2 separate regions of the Homo sapiens genome follow, and region 2 is linked to region 1. The links come from fine-mapping of genetic effects on gene expression. Tissue or cell type: cerebellum. Region 1 holds a variant in brackets; the other region holds the start of a gene. All regions are shown on one strand. Distances are from middle to middle.

Region 1 (8,086 bases):
CCTGGGCCACATGGCAAAACCCCGTCTCTACAAAAAATACAAAAATTAGCTGAGCATGCACCTGTAATCCCAGCTACTAGGAGGCTGAGGTGGGAGGATCGCATGAGCCAGGCAGGCAGAGATGGCAGTGAGACGGGATCATGCCACTGCACTCCAGCCTGGGTGAGGGTGACCTCATCTCAAAACAAAAACAAAAAAACAAACAAACAAAAAAATTGCAATTACTTAACACTTGCATTATTTACCTAACTTCTCCTGAGTCCCAACATAAAGGCATCCATGCTTAAGAACGTTGCTTGTCCTGTCCCAGGGTCCCCTTGGTCCACTGCAGAATCTTTCACTACAGTGTAACATGTTTTTTCTTTCAACATTTTTAAGTTTTCCAAATCCGTAAGAAATGGGCACTGTTAGTATTAAAGATATAAAGAAATTTAAGACAAGTGCTGTGTCGTTTAGATTTAGCAGTCAGTGTGATTAGAAGCAGCAGAGGAGAGGCGTGACCCAAGACACCGATTCTAGTTATAAGGTCTCTCTGGCTTCAAGAGGGGAAGCAGGGAGTCCCTATCGAGTTGCTGCCGCTCAGGTCAGAAACGGTGGACTGGACTAGGGGGCGGGGGTATCAGTGGCAGCAGGCGGAGCTGGCAATTGTCAGGAGTCCTTGGCCAGAGCCTGACCCAGCCCACCCAGCTCTCTGGTTTTCTGCTTGGAGAGAAAGATATCCTGACAGACGCGAGTTTAGGCAGTGCCCTGGGTATGACCAAAGGATGTTGGTTAAAGGCCCCGTTCTGGGAACGGGTCAGGATTCGTCCTTGCTTCCTTCTGAAGGGTTTTGTGTCCTCAGGCTGTTTCCTGGTTTGTGAAATAGGATAGTATCTGCCTCCTGCATCCATCAGGTAATAGGGATGCAATGATTACATAAGGACTATGAAGCCACGGCAGCCATTCTTATTAATAACCTGAGGGGCGCAGAACGTCGTTTAGAGTTTGCAAGGGTTTGAAAAGCCCCCCGTAAGTGGACACTTCCCAGCAGAGGCCATCACCCTAACTCTCGCGTGCTCAGCCCCTTGCATTTTACAGAAGTCCTCCCAGAAACTCTCGTTGGCGCCTCTTAGCTGCCCAATGAGGCCACATGAGTCATTAACCTCGTTCATATAACAGAAAACGGAGCTCTGACGGATCTCGTTTCCCCTGTGGGGAGATCACTGAGTCGGAAACGAAGCTCTGTGGCCATGGATCTACTTCGGATAGACTAGGAGGAAATGGATTTCCTCCGTGGGGCGGGAGGCTCTAGTGCTCGAGGGCAGGAAACGCCAGGAGGTGGCCCAAGGAAGAGGCCGCACACGACGCCCCGCCCCCGGCTCGAGCCCCGGATGAGGAAGTGGTGCGGCCACCGAGACGAGACGGAGGCCCGGCGAGAGCGGCGCGGGGGCGCGAGGGCGGGAAGGAGGCGGGGCCCCGGGGCGGAGCCACCGGAGCGGCGCGGGTTCTCAGGTGAGCGCTACACGGTCGGGGCGGGCCTAGTAGGCGCTTCAGGCTTAGGGGCGGAACAGCGCGGGCCGCGCGGGCGTAGGCGGGGTATCTGGAGGAGGCGCAGGGAACCTGGAGAGGGTCCAGCCCTCAGTGCCCCGGCCAGAGGCGGGAAGGGGCTCTAGAGCTTCGGTGAGTGGAGCTGCCCGCCCCGGACTGGGGATTGGGGGGGCTTGAGATAGGGGACCTTGGCCCAGGTTCGAGTTCCAGGCTCCATCCCCATTCCGCTGTGTGACCTTGGACAAGTCTCTCTCCCTCTCTGAGCCTCAACGGCCTCAGCTGTGAAACGGAGTCAGGGAAGGTCTGCTGAGAGTTCGCACAGACCGAGGTTTGGGGAAGGAACTTCTGCCTTCCTCCTCTTTGTGGTTGCCTTGCTCAGGACATTGGCAGCAAAACGAGAATGGTGGGAGTGTCTCTTAAGTCTCGAGTGACCTTGAGCAAGTCCCTTGCCCGGAGTCACACTTTCATCATCTACAAAATGAGTGGGCTAACCTCTTTTAAGATCTCTTTACTATTTGGGTGTTATTGGTGTAGATGGAGACAAGGTGATGAGCACCCATTCAGCGCAATGCTTCCCCTATGGGGGTGTGATAGAATATCTTCTCCTAGGTTTGACTAGCCCCTGGCCCGAATTCCCCTTAGTTCCTGGATTCTGTGGTTCTATTTGTTCTCCATCGCTCCTTGTAACTGGAGGAGTGACTTCTTCCGAGAGTCACTTGGCACCACTTCACAGCAGAGGAACACCAGTATCTTCACTGGCCTAAAATCAAAGAGTGGTTGCAAGGAAAAATCTGACATTCCAACCTTTTCGTTTGTATTTCTGTGGCAGGGAGGCAAGATGACTTCTCTGCCCCAAGCTTGGAACAGCTAAAGGGAAAAACAGTGCAAGATGAGAACAACAAAGGTCTACAAACTCGTCATCCACAAGAAGGGCTTTGGGGGCAGTGGTCAGTATCGATTGGTCTTTAGAGGTTTTGTAAGTTGGCTGAGGTTCTGGTGTGTGCAATACCTAGAAATTACACACTGACTCGTGTGACAATTGAGGCTAAACAGGCGACTAAACAGACTAAAGCAGCAACTGTCATACAGTAACAATAGGAGGATGGCAGGACCCTTCTAATGCATTTGCATTCAGACTTTTAAGGAACATTGTGAATGCTGCCGGTTTACTACCCTTCATTTGTTGAATTGCATTATTAATTACAAATCTTCCGTGTATGTTCCATAAAATTCCAGCCTGCACTGGTTTGGCAGATAAGAGAAACTAAAATCGTTTATCAGTTTTTACATTGAGTGAGAGAGAAGTGGCATAGATGTGCATAGAGCAGGTATGATCAAAGCATGAACCTTTGCCTGGCTTGTAGGCATGGGAAGAAGGAGCAGGATACAGCATGTTATTCTGCACTGAGCTATAGTCTGAGTATCTACTCTGCTTCTAATTTTCCTGGTGACCTTGGGCAAGCTCCTAGTGTACCTTATCTGAAAGTTGAAGGGCTTTAGAATAGTTTCTCTTAACATCTATTTTTTTTCCTTTCTTTTCTTTTCTTTTTTTTTTTGGGACACGGTCCCCCATGTTGCCCAGGCTAGTCTGGAACTCTAGAGCTCAAAAGATCCTTCCACCTCAACCTCAACCTCCCTAATAGTTGGGATTACAGGCGTGAGCCACTGTACCCAGCTCTCCTTAGTGCCTTGAATCCATAAATCTGAAGAATAAAAGGGCACTTAGTATAATTTTTTTTTCTTTTGTAAGGGAATAATTTTCCATTCTGTCTTAACAGCATTATTTACTTCAGAAATTGGAGTTAACAATATAATGAATCTTTTTATTTTATTTTATTATTTATTGGCATTTTTTTTTTGAGACAGAGTCTC[G/A]CTCTGTCACCAGGCTGGAGTGCAGTGGCGTGATCTCAGCTCACTGCAACCTCCACCTCCCAGGTTCAAGCAATTCTTCTGCCTCAGCCTCCCGAGTAGCTGGGACTACAGGTGCATGCCGCCACACCTGGCTATTTTTTTTTTTTTTTTTTTGTATTTTAGTAGAGAGGGTTTCACCATGTTTCCCAGGCTGGTCTCGAACTCCTGAGCTCAGGCAATCCGCCCACCTTAGCCTCCCAAAGTGCTAGGATTACAGGCAAGAGCCACCGCGCTGGCATGAGTCTTTTTAACATTGTATTTTAGGGTGTATTTACTTCTACATTATGTAGGTATAAGCCTCCAGAGGGGAAGGACTGCCAAAAAGGGAAAACAATAGTTTCTCTATCATAGAGCATTGTGAGGCTTAAGTAAAGTGATACATGTAATGCATTTAGCAGAGTGTTAGACTCTGTGCTCAATAAATGTAGCCATTGTAATTACCAGGCTACAGGCATTGCTATATTTAAACTACAATTTCTGCTAAAATGCACAGTCTATTGTTATTACTTTGATGCTGTTGATGTTGCCTAAATATTTGTGGAGTGGAATAAAGCAAATAACTTTTGGCAGAGAAAAGAATACAAGGATACAGTATATACAACGTATACAAATACATGTTTTTATGTATAAAATACAAAGGTAGTTAGATGCTGTATCCAGTCTTCTGCAAGACTATAGGTCAAAATACAACTAACAGCTGGACATGGTAGCTCATGACTGTAATCCTGGCATTTTGGAAGGTCAAGGTGGGCAGATCACATGAGGTCAGGAGTTCAGGACCAGCCTGGCCAACATAGTGAAACCCCATCTCTACTAAAAATACAAAAATTAGCCAGGTGTGGTGGTGCGTGCCTGTAATCTCAGCTACTAGGGAGGCTGAGGCACGAGAATTGCTTGAACCCAGGAGGCAGAGGTTGCAGTGAGCCGAGATCATGCCACTACACTCCAGCCTGGGCAATAGAGCAAGACCCTGTCTTTAAAAAAATAAAAAATAATAAAAAAAAAAGAAACAACCAACAGATATTTATTAGGTGTATACCTGTGCCAGACGTAATGATTATGAATGCCACAAGGTTCTTTGTCCCTAAAGAGTTTTCAGTTTGGTAAGATAGACATGCAAAAAGGAAATGATAAAACCAAGCAGAAGGGGATATGTTCTCAGGGACCTTAATTCAGACTATGTAAATTAGGGAGGAAGCTCCAAAGAGCATTTGTCGTGAAACTGTCAGTGGAAACATAGCAAATAAAATTAGGGATTGCTGGGTGCAGTGGTGTATGCCTGTAGTCACAGCTACTCAAGAGGCTGGGACAGGAGGATCACTTGGGCCCAGGAGTTCCAGACTATAGTACATTATGCTGATTGGGTGTCTGCACTAAGTTCTGCATCAATATAGTGACCTCCCAGGAGTGGGGGACCACCAGCTTGCCTTAGGAAGTGTGAACCACCTCAGGTTGGGAACAGAGCAGGTCAAAACTCCTGTGCTGATCAGCAGTGGGATTGTCCCTGTAAATAGCCACTGTACGCCAGCCTAGGCAACAGCAAGACCTTATCTCTAAAAGAAAACAAAAAAATTTGGGAGTAAGCCAATGTTTCATTTTACTAGGCTAAATTTTTGTTGGGTCTGATTATATTTGAAATCTAGATAAACTTAATTGTCATGATATTAGCATAATTAAAGGTGATGTCTTTCCTTGCAAATTAAAACAGCAAAACAGTCATTCTGTCTTTATGCTTCTGAGTTTGCAATATTTGATAGAGTTCTCCCCATCCCTAGTAGAGGGGCAGGGGTAGATAAACATGAAACCACATCCCTCTTATTTTATTTATTTATTTTTTTGAGATGCAGTCTCTTTCTGTCACTCAGGCTGGAGTGCAGTGGTGTGATTTCGGCTCACTGTAACCTCTGCCTCCCGGGTTCAAGTGATTCTCCTGCCTCAGGCTCCCAAGTAGCTGGGATTACAGGCTCCCACCACCACACCTGGCTAATTTTTGTATTTTTAGTAGAGACGGGGTTTCGCCATGTTCGCCAGGCTGGTCTTGAACTCCTGACCTCAGGTGATCTGTCCATCTCGGCCTCTCAAAGTATTGGGATTACAGGCATGAGCCACTGCTCCTGGACTCTCTGAGGTTATTTTCTTACTCCTGTTAGATCTAAAGATTTATTGTGACGGTCACATTAAGACACTGTTTGGGAAATTCTTTGAACATTGAATAACTGTAACGAATTGTGCTGTATCTGTGGGAACCAGCCTGTTTTGTTCCTGTTATATGCCAGATACACAATATTTGAGGGGGTAAAAGGCTGTCCAGAAGCCTAATTCCCAGATACTAAGGGCTGCTCTGCCCCTGGAAGCAGTGCGGTAGTAGAAAGGGCACAGGGTATGGAGACAAAGGTACCTGAGCGCCATCCCACTCTGCTGCTGTGTAGCTTGGTGTTCCTGTGTGAATCCATTAGTCATTGTAAGCCTCGTTTCAAAATAGAACCTCATCTGTCAATGGGGTGGCAATACCATCCTGATGGGGTTGTGAGGAACCAGTATGAGAACATACAGTGTACCTAATGAGTGTTTTTCTACTTGAAGTGGCTGAATTGTCTTTCAGATGATGAGCTAGTTGTGAACCCCAAAGTGTTCCCTCACATCAAGCTTGGAGACATTGTAGAGATTGCACACCCCAACGATGAATACAGGTGAGTGTCTCATAGGATCCATGGAACTGGGCAATTCACTGTTTCCAAATGATGTCCAAGGCAGATAGCTCTCTTTGCCTTTCAAAATGCTCATGCTGTGATGGCTCAATCCTGTAATTCCAGCACTTTGGGAGGCTGAGGTGGGTAGGTCATTTGAGCCCGGGAGTTCGAGACCAGCCTGGGCAACATAGAGGGACCCTGTCTTAAAAAAAAATGATCATGCCTTCTAGGATTTGATCAACAAATAATTTTTCAAAAGTGGTCCATTCCTTCGTTTTTTTTTTTTTGAGATGGAGTCTAGCTCTGTCACCCAGGCTAGAGTGCAGTTGTGTAATCTCAGCTCACTGCAACCTCTGCCTCCCAGCCCCAAGTGATTGTCCTGCCTCAGCCTCCTGAGTAGCTGAGATTACAGGCTCAGCCTCCCGAGTAGCTGAGATTACAGGCATGCGCCATCACGCCCAGCTAATTTTGCATTTTTGGTAGAGACAGGGTTTCACCATGTTGCCCAGGCTGGTCTTGAACTCCTGACCTCAGGTAATCCACTGGCCTTGGCCTCCCAATGTGCTGGGATTACAGGTATGAGGCACCGCACCTGGCCTAATTTTTGTGTTTTTTAGTAGAGATGGGGTTTCACCATATTGTCCAGGCTTGTCTCAAGTCATCCATCCTGCTAGGCCTCCCAAAGTGCTGAGATTACAGGCATGAGCCACCATACCGAGCCGTTTTTTTTGTTTTTTTTGTTTTTTTTTGTTTTTTTTGAGATGAAATCTCACTCTGTCACCCAGGCTGAAGTGCAGTGGTGGGATCTTGGCTCACTGCAATCTCTGTCTTCCGGGTTCAAGCCATTCTCCTGCCTCAGCCTCCTGAGTAGCTGGGATTACAGGCGCGTGCCACCATGCTTGGCTAATTTTTGTATTTTTAGTAGAGACGGGGTTTCACCATGTTGGTCAGGCTGGTTTCGAACTCCTGACCTCGTGATCCGCCTGCCTTGGCCTCTTAAAGTGCTAGGATTACAGGCATGAGCTACCTTGCCGCGCCCAGCCTTTTTTTTTTTTTTTTTTTTTTAAGAGACAGAGTCTCGCTCTGTCACCCAGGCTGGAGTGCAGTGGTGCCACCTCGGCTCACTGCAACCTCTGCCTCCTGGGTTCAAGTGACTCTTCTGCCTCAGCCTGTCGAGTAGCTGGAACTACAGGTGTGGGCCACCACACCTGGCTAATTTTTGTATTTTTAATAGAGACAGGGTTTCGTCATGTTGGCCAGGCTGGTCTCGAACTCCTGACCTCAGGTGATCCACCTGCCTTGGCCTCCCAAAGTGTTGGGATTATAGGCATGAGCCACCGAGCCCAGCCTCTTTCTGGTTTTAAAGCTGAGATGACAACTGAAAGGTTCTGTAGCATTTGTCCATTTCCTTTAGTGCGTATGGAGTTTCTTTGTTTCTTTTTTTTTTTTTGTGAGACGGAGTCTTGCTCTGTCGCCCAGGCTGGAGTGCAGTGGCACAATCTTGGCTCACTGCAAGCTCCACCTCCCGGGTTCACGCCATTCTCCTGCCTCAGCCTCCCAAGTAGCTGGGACTACAGGCGCCCACCACTATGCCCGGCTAATTTTTTTGTATTTTTAGGAGAGACGGGGTTTCACTGTGTTAGCCAGGATGGTCTCGATCTCCTGACCTCATGATCCGCCCGTCTCGGCCTCCCAAAGTGCTGGGATTACAGGCATGAGCCACCACACCCGGCCTAATTTTTTCTATTTTTTAGTAGAGAAGGGGTTTCACCGTGTTAGCCAGGATGGTCTCGATCTCCTGACCTCGTGGTCCACCTGCCTCGGCCTCCCAAAGTGCTGGGATTACAGGCGTGAGCCACCGCACCTGGCCGAGTTTCTTTGTTTCTGAGGGAGCTTTCTCCCGTTGTTGTGCTGTAAGTCACAGAATGGCCAGAGTGACCTATTTGCCTTTTGTCGGG
Region 2 (8,103 bases), 190 kb after region 1:
GGCAGGAGGTACATTTGAGGCCAGGAGTTCAAGACCAGCCTGGCCAACCTGGTGAAATCTCTATTAAAAATACACACAAAAAAATTAGCTGGGCTTGGTGGTGCATGCCTGCAGTCCTAGCTACTCGGGAGGCTGAGGCAGGAGAATAGCTTGAACCTGGGAGGCGGAGATTGCAGTGAGCCAAGATTGTGCCACTGCACTCCAGTCTGGGCAACAGAGCGAGACTCCATCTCTTAGAGAAAAAAACAAACCAAAAAAAAGACTAAAAAATCCATTTAACAGATGAGGCACAAGAGTTTAAATAATTTTCTCTGAAAAAATTAGCTGGGTGCGGTGACGTGCGCCTTGTAGCCCCAGCTACTTGGGAGGCTGAGGCAGGAGGATCGCTTGAACCTGGGAGGCGGAGGTTGCAGTGAGCTAAGAGAGCACTATTGCACTCCAGCCTGGGTGAATGGGTGAGACTCTATCTCAAAACAAAACAAAAGCCAACAAACAAAAAAACAGGAAAGGAAATCGGACCAGCCTTACAGGGGTATCTTGAGGGAAAAAAAAATGCACGTTTCTGCAAAGCACCTTGCCTGGTACTAGGAACATGGTAGATGGTTCCTTAGAGTGCATGAGGATGGGGTCACCAAGGATAGGGCAGTGTGTGAAGAGGGCTCGGGACAAAGCCCTGAGGAACCCTAGTATTTTGGGGTAGGCTAGAAGACAAGCCCATACAGCAAATAGAAGAGCAATGGCCGGAGCAGCAGAAGGGAAGCTGGGAGAGTCGGTCAAGGAAGGGTGAGCAGTCGTGCCCAGTCCAGCCAAGAGGGCCAGGGAGGTGGGCACTATGAAACCTCCTTGGCTTTGACAACAAGGAGGGCTCTGATGGCCACGGTGGAGGAGTAGGGACAGGGTGAGAGCACACTGAGCTGATGGGTGGGTAGGAGGTGAGGAAGAGGAGATGAGGAAGTTTGGTGAGAAGAAAAGCTTCATGGGAGAACCAGAGTGTCCTTTACACATGTCAGAAATCAATTATTTAGAATGCTCCAGCTCTACCTAATTTTCACTGTTTTGAAATCAATCTTAGTCCAACCTCATCAGAAAAGCTGGAAGGGCTCTAAGCCCTCTAAGAGCTAGAAGGAACCGAGGAGGTCCCCCCATCCAGGGCTGGCCCTCCTCCCATCTCTCACTGGGACCCCATCCTTATGGGGGGTGGAGTGGATGATTCATTACTATCTAGCATGCTCTTTAAATATATTCACTAGGGGAAAGATTAGCCTGGTTTGTTAACCTCGATTCCAACAGCAAAAGTGACTCTTCAAAGCATGGTGAAGCCTGGGGTAGTGGCCTCCTCCTAGACCCACATTCAAATCCTGTTTCATGGGCCCCCAGAAGTGTGATCGTTTCAGCATCATAGCAGGAAGAGGAAGGCCTGGGAGGCAGGAAACCTGGTATGGAGACCCCAGCTCTGCTCACTCGCTGTGCAAACTAGGGCCAGCCCCTCCTTTCCCTCAGACCTCAGTTTCCCGTTATTCAGGATAAGGGGTTAGACAGGGGTGATTCTAAGGGTCCTGCCAGCTCTGACATTTCAGCATGTGGATATCTATTCTAAAGTCCTTGAAACAGTTAAGTCCAATTCTCCAGATGGAAAACAGGTCCAGAAAAGGCCTGGTCTCCAGTTCCCTCCCTTCTCCCTTCGAACATGTCTTACTCTCTAGAGCAAGATTCCAGGCCTGAAATATGGCTTCCCAATTACCTAAGGATGAAGCCTCAAATCTTTGGCCTGGCATTTAAAAGACTCCGTAATCTTGTTTTACCCAACCTCACTTCCCATTCTTAGGCCTCTCTTCTCACCATCTCCCAGGTCACTGCCAAGCCTTTGCCAATGCTGTACCCCAGGCCTTAATCTTTTTCCTGACTCTCCTTCAAGATCCAGCTTATCCCTGTGGGCTGAGCATGCAGTAGATGCTCAATAAAATTCTCAGCGAGCCCAAGGCCCCCTCTCCTGCACTGCCCTTGGCGTGTTGAAATCAAGTGGGGGCCTTGTTTTAATCATCATTTTCCTAGCTTGTCGGGCAGCCCAGTCCAGGGCCTGGCACAAGGGACCCTCAGCATCCAATACCAGCCAGGATTGGGAGGGGCTCAGTGACCAGCCAGTTGGGCCACCCCAGCTCTTTGCCACAAGAGAAAGTTCAGCCTGGGTTTGGACTCAGATCCTGGCCCCACCACTTACAGGCTGCGTAACCCTGAGCAAGTCACTAACCTCGCTTTTCCTCAGGTTCCACGTTTTAAATATGGGGAGACCAGCTGTGCCCACTGTGGGCTGGGTAGTGAGGATTAAAGAGGAGGATGCTTGTACGGGACTAGCACTGGGCTGGCTCCTAATGTGTCCTGAATATTACTTGTCCCGCCCTGGCCACCCAGTCCCCTCCTCTGGTGGAAGGCACAGCCTGCCCAAGGCTACGTCTCAGGTTGGGTTCGATTGTGTGTGTCTGTGTAGCGGGGCTGTCCCCGAGGGTCGGACTCGATCCTGCCCGGACCAGTACAAGGTGTGGCCCAGCAGAACGCATGGACAGGCAGGGCTCGGGGCGGGCGGGACGGCTGGGGCGGGGCTGGGCGGACCCGCCCCTCGGGGCACGCGGTCTCCCGGCTTCTCCGCCAGTATGTTTGCTTGCTTTTGGGGCCCTTCTCAAGCCAGATCTCTAACGTGGATGGAGTGGCGCGTTTCAGGGTGGGGCTATGACAATGCACTGCCTGTGCAGCCGCCATCACCGCGCCCCCTCCACCGGCTCCGCAGTCTCCTGCCCGGCTTTCCCTTCTCCACCTCCATCTCTGCGGCGGTAAAATGCAGCACTCGCAGAGCGCCTGCGCGGCTTTCAGGCCGGGCGGCGGCGGCGGCGGTGGCTATTTATAGTAGGTGACGTCACCTTGAAATAGACCGTTAGGGCCGGCCCGCCCTTCCCCCCTCCCACTCCCGCCGCTCCCCGCCGCCCGGCCTGGCCACTCTCACTGCGCAGGCGTCGTCCCGTCCTCCCATCCCCCAGCGCGGCCGCGTCTCCTCCCTCGGCGTTGTCCGCGGCGCGAGCCACAGCGCGCGGGGCGAGCCAGCGAGAGGGCGCGAGCGGCGGCGCTGCCTGCAGCCTGCAGCCTGCAGCCTCCGGCCGGCCGGCGAGCCAGTGCGCGTGCGCGGCGGCGGCCTCCGCAGCGACCGGGGAGCGGACTGACCGGCGGGAGGGCTAGCGAGCCAGCGGTGTGAGGCGCGAGGCGAGGCCGAGCCGCGAGCGACATGGGGGACCGGGAGCAGCTGCTGCAGCGGGCGCGGCTGGCCGAGCAGGCGGAGCGCTACGACGACATGGCCTCCGCTATGAAGGCGGTGAGCGCGCCGGGAGCCCGGGCGGCTGGCCGGGGGGGGCCTGGCGTTGGGGAGGGACGGGGATGGCCGCGGGCGCGTTCCCCTCCCGGCCATGGGCGACCCGGCGACCCGGCTGGGCGTGGCCGCCCGCCCGCCCTTAGCCCGCGCTTCCCGCTCCCGCTGGGCGCCCCGCCACTTCCTGAGGCTGGGCCCAGGGTGGGGGATCCGGGAGGGTGCAGTTCGGGATCGCGAAGGCAGCCCCGGAAGGGGGGCGGGCCGGTCGGGGTCGCCACATCTTAGTTCGGAACCCGGCCGGGGGCAGAGGGTGCCCTAGGGGACGCGAAGGAGCCGCATTTCTCCTAGAGCGTTTCACCGGACCCGGGGGCTCCCCCTCTCGTCTTCCTCCGTTCCCCAACTTGGAATAAAGAATCACCTAGTAAGTGGCGCCCTGTCTCAGCTGGTTTTCTCTGCCACGACCTGAAGTCTGCAATTCCGATCTGTTTTGCTCTGCTCGTTCGAATTGTTCTGGTTCCATCTTCCCACGCCTGGGGGTCTGGCTTTGTGTGCGAAGACCCCTTTCCTGCAGTCTAGGCGTGGACGGGGGCGGGAGAGTGGGCGGAGGGTGTGGGGCCCCACTCCACAGCCCCAGGTTTGCTGCTGCGCTGTCTGCTTGGAGATTAAAATGAAACGTGACTTCTAGGTGAGACGAATCTGTGTGTCTTTGCATTCCTGAGACCCTCATAAATCGATTCTGCAGCTTCTCCGGTGGATGAGTCGTGCCCAGCCACACCCTAGCAAAATACCGTGGGTCACACACCACCTGCATTTCTGAGTTCCGGTTACCATCTCACTCTCTCTCCACGTTATTTTACGTTTTCTGTAAATGAATATTTCCTCTCCCTGCGTCAAGGTCACACAGTGGTAGAACAACTGCGACCACCAACCTATGTTCAGTGTACAACCTCCTGAGACCTGGGAGGATCCCCTTGAACTCCGCCTTAGACCTATACATTCAGAAATTCGGGCGGTGAGACTCAGACATCTGCATTGTAACCAGCTCTCACAGGCGATTTTTAGCTGGCTTAAGTCTGAGAATTACTGCCCATGATTATAGTAAATGTATCCTTTGCTGGCCTTTTGGAGGGAGTTCCGAAAAAAAACTGCCAATACAAAGGCTCCCTAAAATCTTAAGTCATTTGGAAAGCTCATTTGAAGGCTTTTGATGTTAATATCAGATGAAATATGTAGTTGGGGCCAATATTTAGGATTGTTCAGGTAAGAAAGGTGCTTGAAGAGTTGCCTTTCCTCTGGTGTCCTTGTTACACACATAACTGGGTGTGTTTGGAAACCAGCAACACCGTTGCCCGTATGTTGATTTGTTGGTGATCTTGACTTGAGCACTATTAGCATGCTGTTGTGGTGAGGCAGGTTTTCTTCCAGACCGGGGGACGGTCTAGGTCTGGAGGCTGAACTTTATGTAATTCAGGGGGTCCTTTAAAAGAAAATCTAAAATATAGTTTTGCATATTTTACAAAAATGGGACTGACGAATGCATTTCCTTGGAAGGGACCCTGAACCTTAATTTTCTGTGGGATAAAGCTGCCTCTGTCCACAGCAGGTCACACTTAAGCCCCTCCTCCCCAGTAACTGAGTGGTGCTGGGATTATGCAGGCTGAGGCCTCTCCACACATTTTCATGAAGTGGTTGCTCACCCTCTAAGTGAGACGTAAAGACTGCAGTGTTCGGAGCCCTTTGGGAAATAAATGTGGTGAAAAGAAAGGAGGGACGAGGTTTAAAGGAAGGGGAAATGGAGGTTAAGGAAAAATGGCTAGAAGGTGTGTTCTGGAACAATCAGAAACCTGAGGCAACTTGAAATGGGGGAAAAAGGCAAGAATGGAGAGATGTTACCAGAACGAAATCTAGTTTGAGCAGAGAAAAAGACTGGCTTTCTAGTAGGCTTGTAAAATGCTTTCCTGCAGCAAGCTACTTGTGTCCATAGATCTTCTCTGGAGGGTTAAGGTAGCCTTTTGTAAACCAAAGGAATCTATAATATCTATATTTGAAATAATTAATGAGTTGGAAAAGCCACCCAGCGTAGAAGAGTCAATCCAAGCTTTAATTCTGCCATCTCAGAATGGTGATAAACCATTTCTCCCCCATCATCTAAATGGAATATATTGTGCTTATAGGTATTTTCTTTAAAAGAAAAAAAAGAATATATTGGAAGGGACTGGCAGGGGTCACTTTCCCTGCTAACTTGGTGTTTGTAGATTAAATTCTTAATGTTACTGGGATGACTCAGTCTCTATGTTATTAATCTCATCAGCCTTAACTAAGGCTTTTGGAAAGGGTGTAAGTTTCAGTAACCCTCTGGGTTTACCTGGGCTTTCTTCAGGGCTGGGGAAGGGCAGGTAAGTAGCCTGCTGTAGGGAGGATGGAGCAGGACACATGTGTTAAGGATATATTCTGATGCCACCAGTCTGTAACCTTGAAACTTACATCTTGGCTTTAGGTCCTCTGAAGTATAAAACTAGTGATGTTGCTGTTATTAACAAGTCAGTTTTGCCTTCAGTCTTCTAACTTGTTTTCTGTTTCCTTCATAATTAAAATGCTCACTTGATAATACTGCCTTCCTGTAATGATTGATGTTCCTCATTCTACCAGCGTCACCTGGAGGACAGTGTTGGTAAGCTTGAAGAAAAATCGTGCATACTGGAAACAATGGTCTTGCCTCAAACCTGTTGAGAACTTCTCTTCCCTGCTTCTCTCCATAATTTGAAGAAGCAAGAAATGTTTCTGAAGTGAAGCATAAAGGAGTATCTTCAAGCTCTATCTCATACCTACCAGCTTGCATAGAGTATAATAGTGGGAAGAAATATTGTGAAAGATTCTAGAACCTAAGTCCTTTCTAGGCTAGGCAATTCTAGGCTACACAATTCGTAGTCTCTGTAAATACCATTTGATAACTGAAATAAACCTATAAAGTGGGATTAAATGTTAGTCCAGAAGACTAAGTGATTTAAGGAAAGAGGGAAAATAACCAGATAGATTTCTGGTGGATATTCATAGACAGACATAATTTCATCATGTATTATGGCCCTAAGTCATCTATTTTATATTAAAACATAGATGGTAACTGTAAAGTTATCAAATGTAAAAATTACTGGGCTAGCATTGTGTTTTAACACTGATACACCAGTTGATTACAGTGTTGACAGAAAACGGGCAGAAACACGTTTAAAGTACCTGCAGAATATATATATAGAAATCTTTTTTTTTTAATCAGTGTTGACCAGGTTGGCCTCGAACGTGTAGCCTCACCTCCCCGAGTGCCAGGGCAACCGGCCTGAGCCACAGCGGCTCCCTAGAAATCTTAAGTGCAGGAAACAAAACTACAGTTTAAGGAAACAGGAGTCGGAGAGGAGGGGCATTTGGCCCAACCACTGGCAAAAGGCTGTTGTTGCAACAACTGTGAGATTCTGGGAAGTGGGGAAATGAGCAGGTGCTGTGTAAAAGTGCACAGCTGACTGCCCCAGGTGAGACAGATCAGTGTCACAGAGAGTAGGAGGATTTTGAGGTGTGATTAGTATTTTTTTTTTTTTTCTTAAAGAGATGGTCTCGTTCTGGAACCCAGGCTGGAGTGCAGTCGTGGCACGATCATAATTCACTGTAGCCTTGAGCTCCTGGGCTCAAGTGAACCTCCTGAGCAGCTGGGACTACAGATGCATGCCACCGTGCCCAGCTAATTATTAAATTGTATAGACAGGATCTCTATATGGTACCCAAGTTGGTCTCAAACTCCTGGCCTCAAGCAGTCCTCCTGCCTCAGCCTATTAAAGTGCTGGGATTACAGGAGTGAGCTACCACACCCAACCAGTAGGAAATCTTAAAGCCACATTGATACTACAGTTTGAAATATGTAAAAACTAGGGAGCTATGTTTCCCACTAACTGGGCATTTAAAATGTAATCGTCTTTGAGGAAGGAAGAAGGCTCTGGATTATTCTTGTAATAGTTTGAATTTAAAAGGTCCTTTCAGGTGGGCAAACAGCTTACGTGGCTTTCTTGCACTGAAATAGAAACTGTAGTCCCCATGTGGGTTTGGGTCCCTGAATTATCCCCAGAAGAACTTCCACAGTCCGGAACTGACTCCCTTAAAGAAACCAAAAATGTATTTTCTTTGGTGGGGATTTTCTTTAGTTGGTCTTTGTCTGGGATTTTATATCAGTGACAGACTGTAGCGTCACACTTTTCCAGAAATACGGTTTCGGAGAGGGTACCCCTAACGTTTTATGTGTGTGTGTGTTACATTTAGCAAGTTTATATAACATATTTTACTTTTTTTTTTTTTTTTTTTTTTGAGACAGTTTCGCTCTTGTTGCCCAGGCTGGAGTACAATGGAGCAATCTCGGCTCTCTGCAACCTCTGCCTCCCGGGTTCAAGCAATTCTCCTGCCTCAGCCTCCCAAGTAGCTGGGATTACAGGCATGCACCACCATGCCATGCCCGCCTAATTTTGTATTTTTAGTAGAGATGGGGTTTCTCCATGTTGGTCAGGCTGGTCTTGAACACCCGACCTCAGGTTATCCACCTGCCTCGGCCTCCCAAAGTACTGGGATTACAGGCGTGAGCCACTGCGCTTGGTTAGAACTTATTTAACTTTTTAGGCACTTGGTAAACGGTAGCTGTTAGTCCATGTGTACTTTTTTTTTTGGTGGGGGGGGGAGTCATGCTCTGTCACCCAGGCTGGAGTGCAGTGGCAGGATCT

Alleles and levels. Positions count from the first base shown, and alleles are read on the strand shown. Sizes are in standard deviations (SD) of each study's normalised expression.
For the expression in cerebellum of the gene that starts at base 3,904 in region 2, allele A in region 1 goes with a higher level than allele G (large effect, 1.0 SD a copy in GTEx).

Evidence for each region. PIP is the estimated chance that this variant, and not a neighbour inherited with it, causes the effect.
Region 2: it holds the start of YWHAH-AS1, and the variant in region 1 is fine-mapped to the expression of YWHAH-AS1 in cerebellum (GTEx, PIP 0.92).

What each region holds. Positions count from the first base shown.
Region 1 is chr22:31,752,506-31,760,591 of GRCh38, forward strand. DEPDC5 (DEP domain containing 5, GATOR1 subcomplex subunit) reads left to right here and starts at 1,514. Exons shown (of 43, transcript NM_001242896.3): 1 at 1,514-1,659; 2 at 2,357-2,474; 3 at 6,041-6,128. The coding sequence starts at 2,417. It also overlaps the pseudogene RN7SL20P. RefSeq lists a silencer at 1,279-1,588. The variant G/A (reference allele first, on the strand shown) is at 3,400.
Region 2 is chr22:31,941,463-31,949,565 of GRCh38, forward strand. It overlaps YWHAH-AS1 (YWHAH antisense RNA 1), which reads right to left and starts at 3,904. Exons shown (of 3, transcript NR_171018.1): 1 at 3,771-3,904. It overlaps YWHAH (tyrosine 3-monooxygenase/tryptophan 5-monooxygenase activation protein eta), which reads left to right and starts at 3,073. Exons shown (of 2, transcript NM_003405.4): 1 at 3,073-3,358. The coding sequence starts at 3,272. LOC124900477 (a long non-coding RNA gene) reads left to right here and starts at 3,372. Exons shown (of 3, transcript XR_007068065.1): 1 at 3,372-3,773; 2 at 4,038-4,216; 3 at 6,002-7,690. RefSeq lists enhancers at 1,535-2,392, 2,393-3,250, 3,994-4,043 and silencers at 2,514-2,663, 2,944-3,033, 3,044-3,263, 3,334-3,673.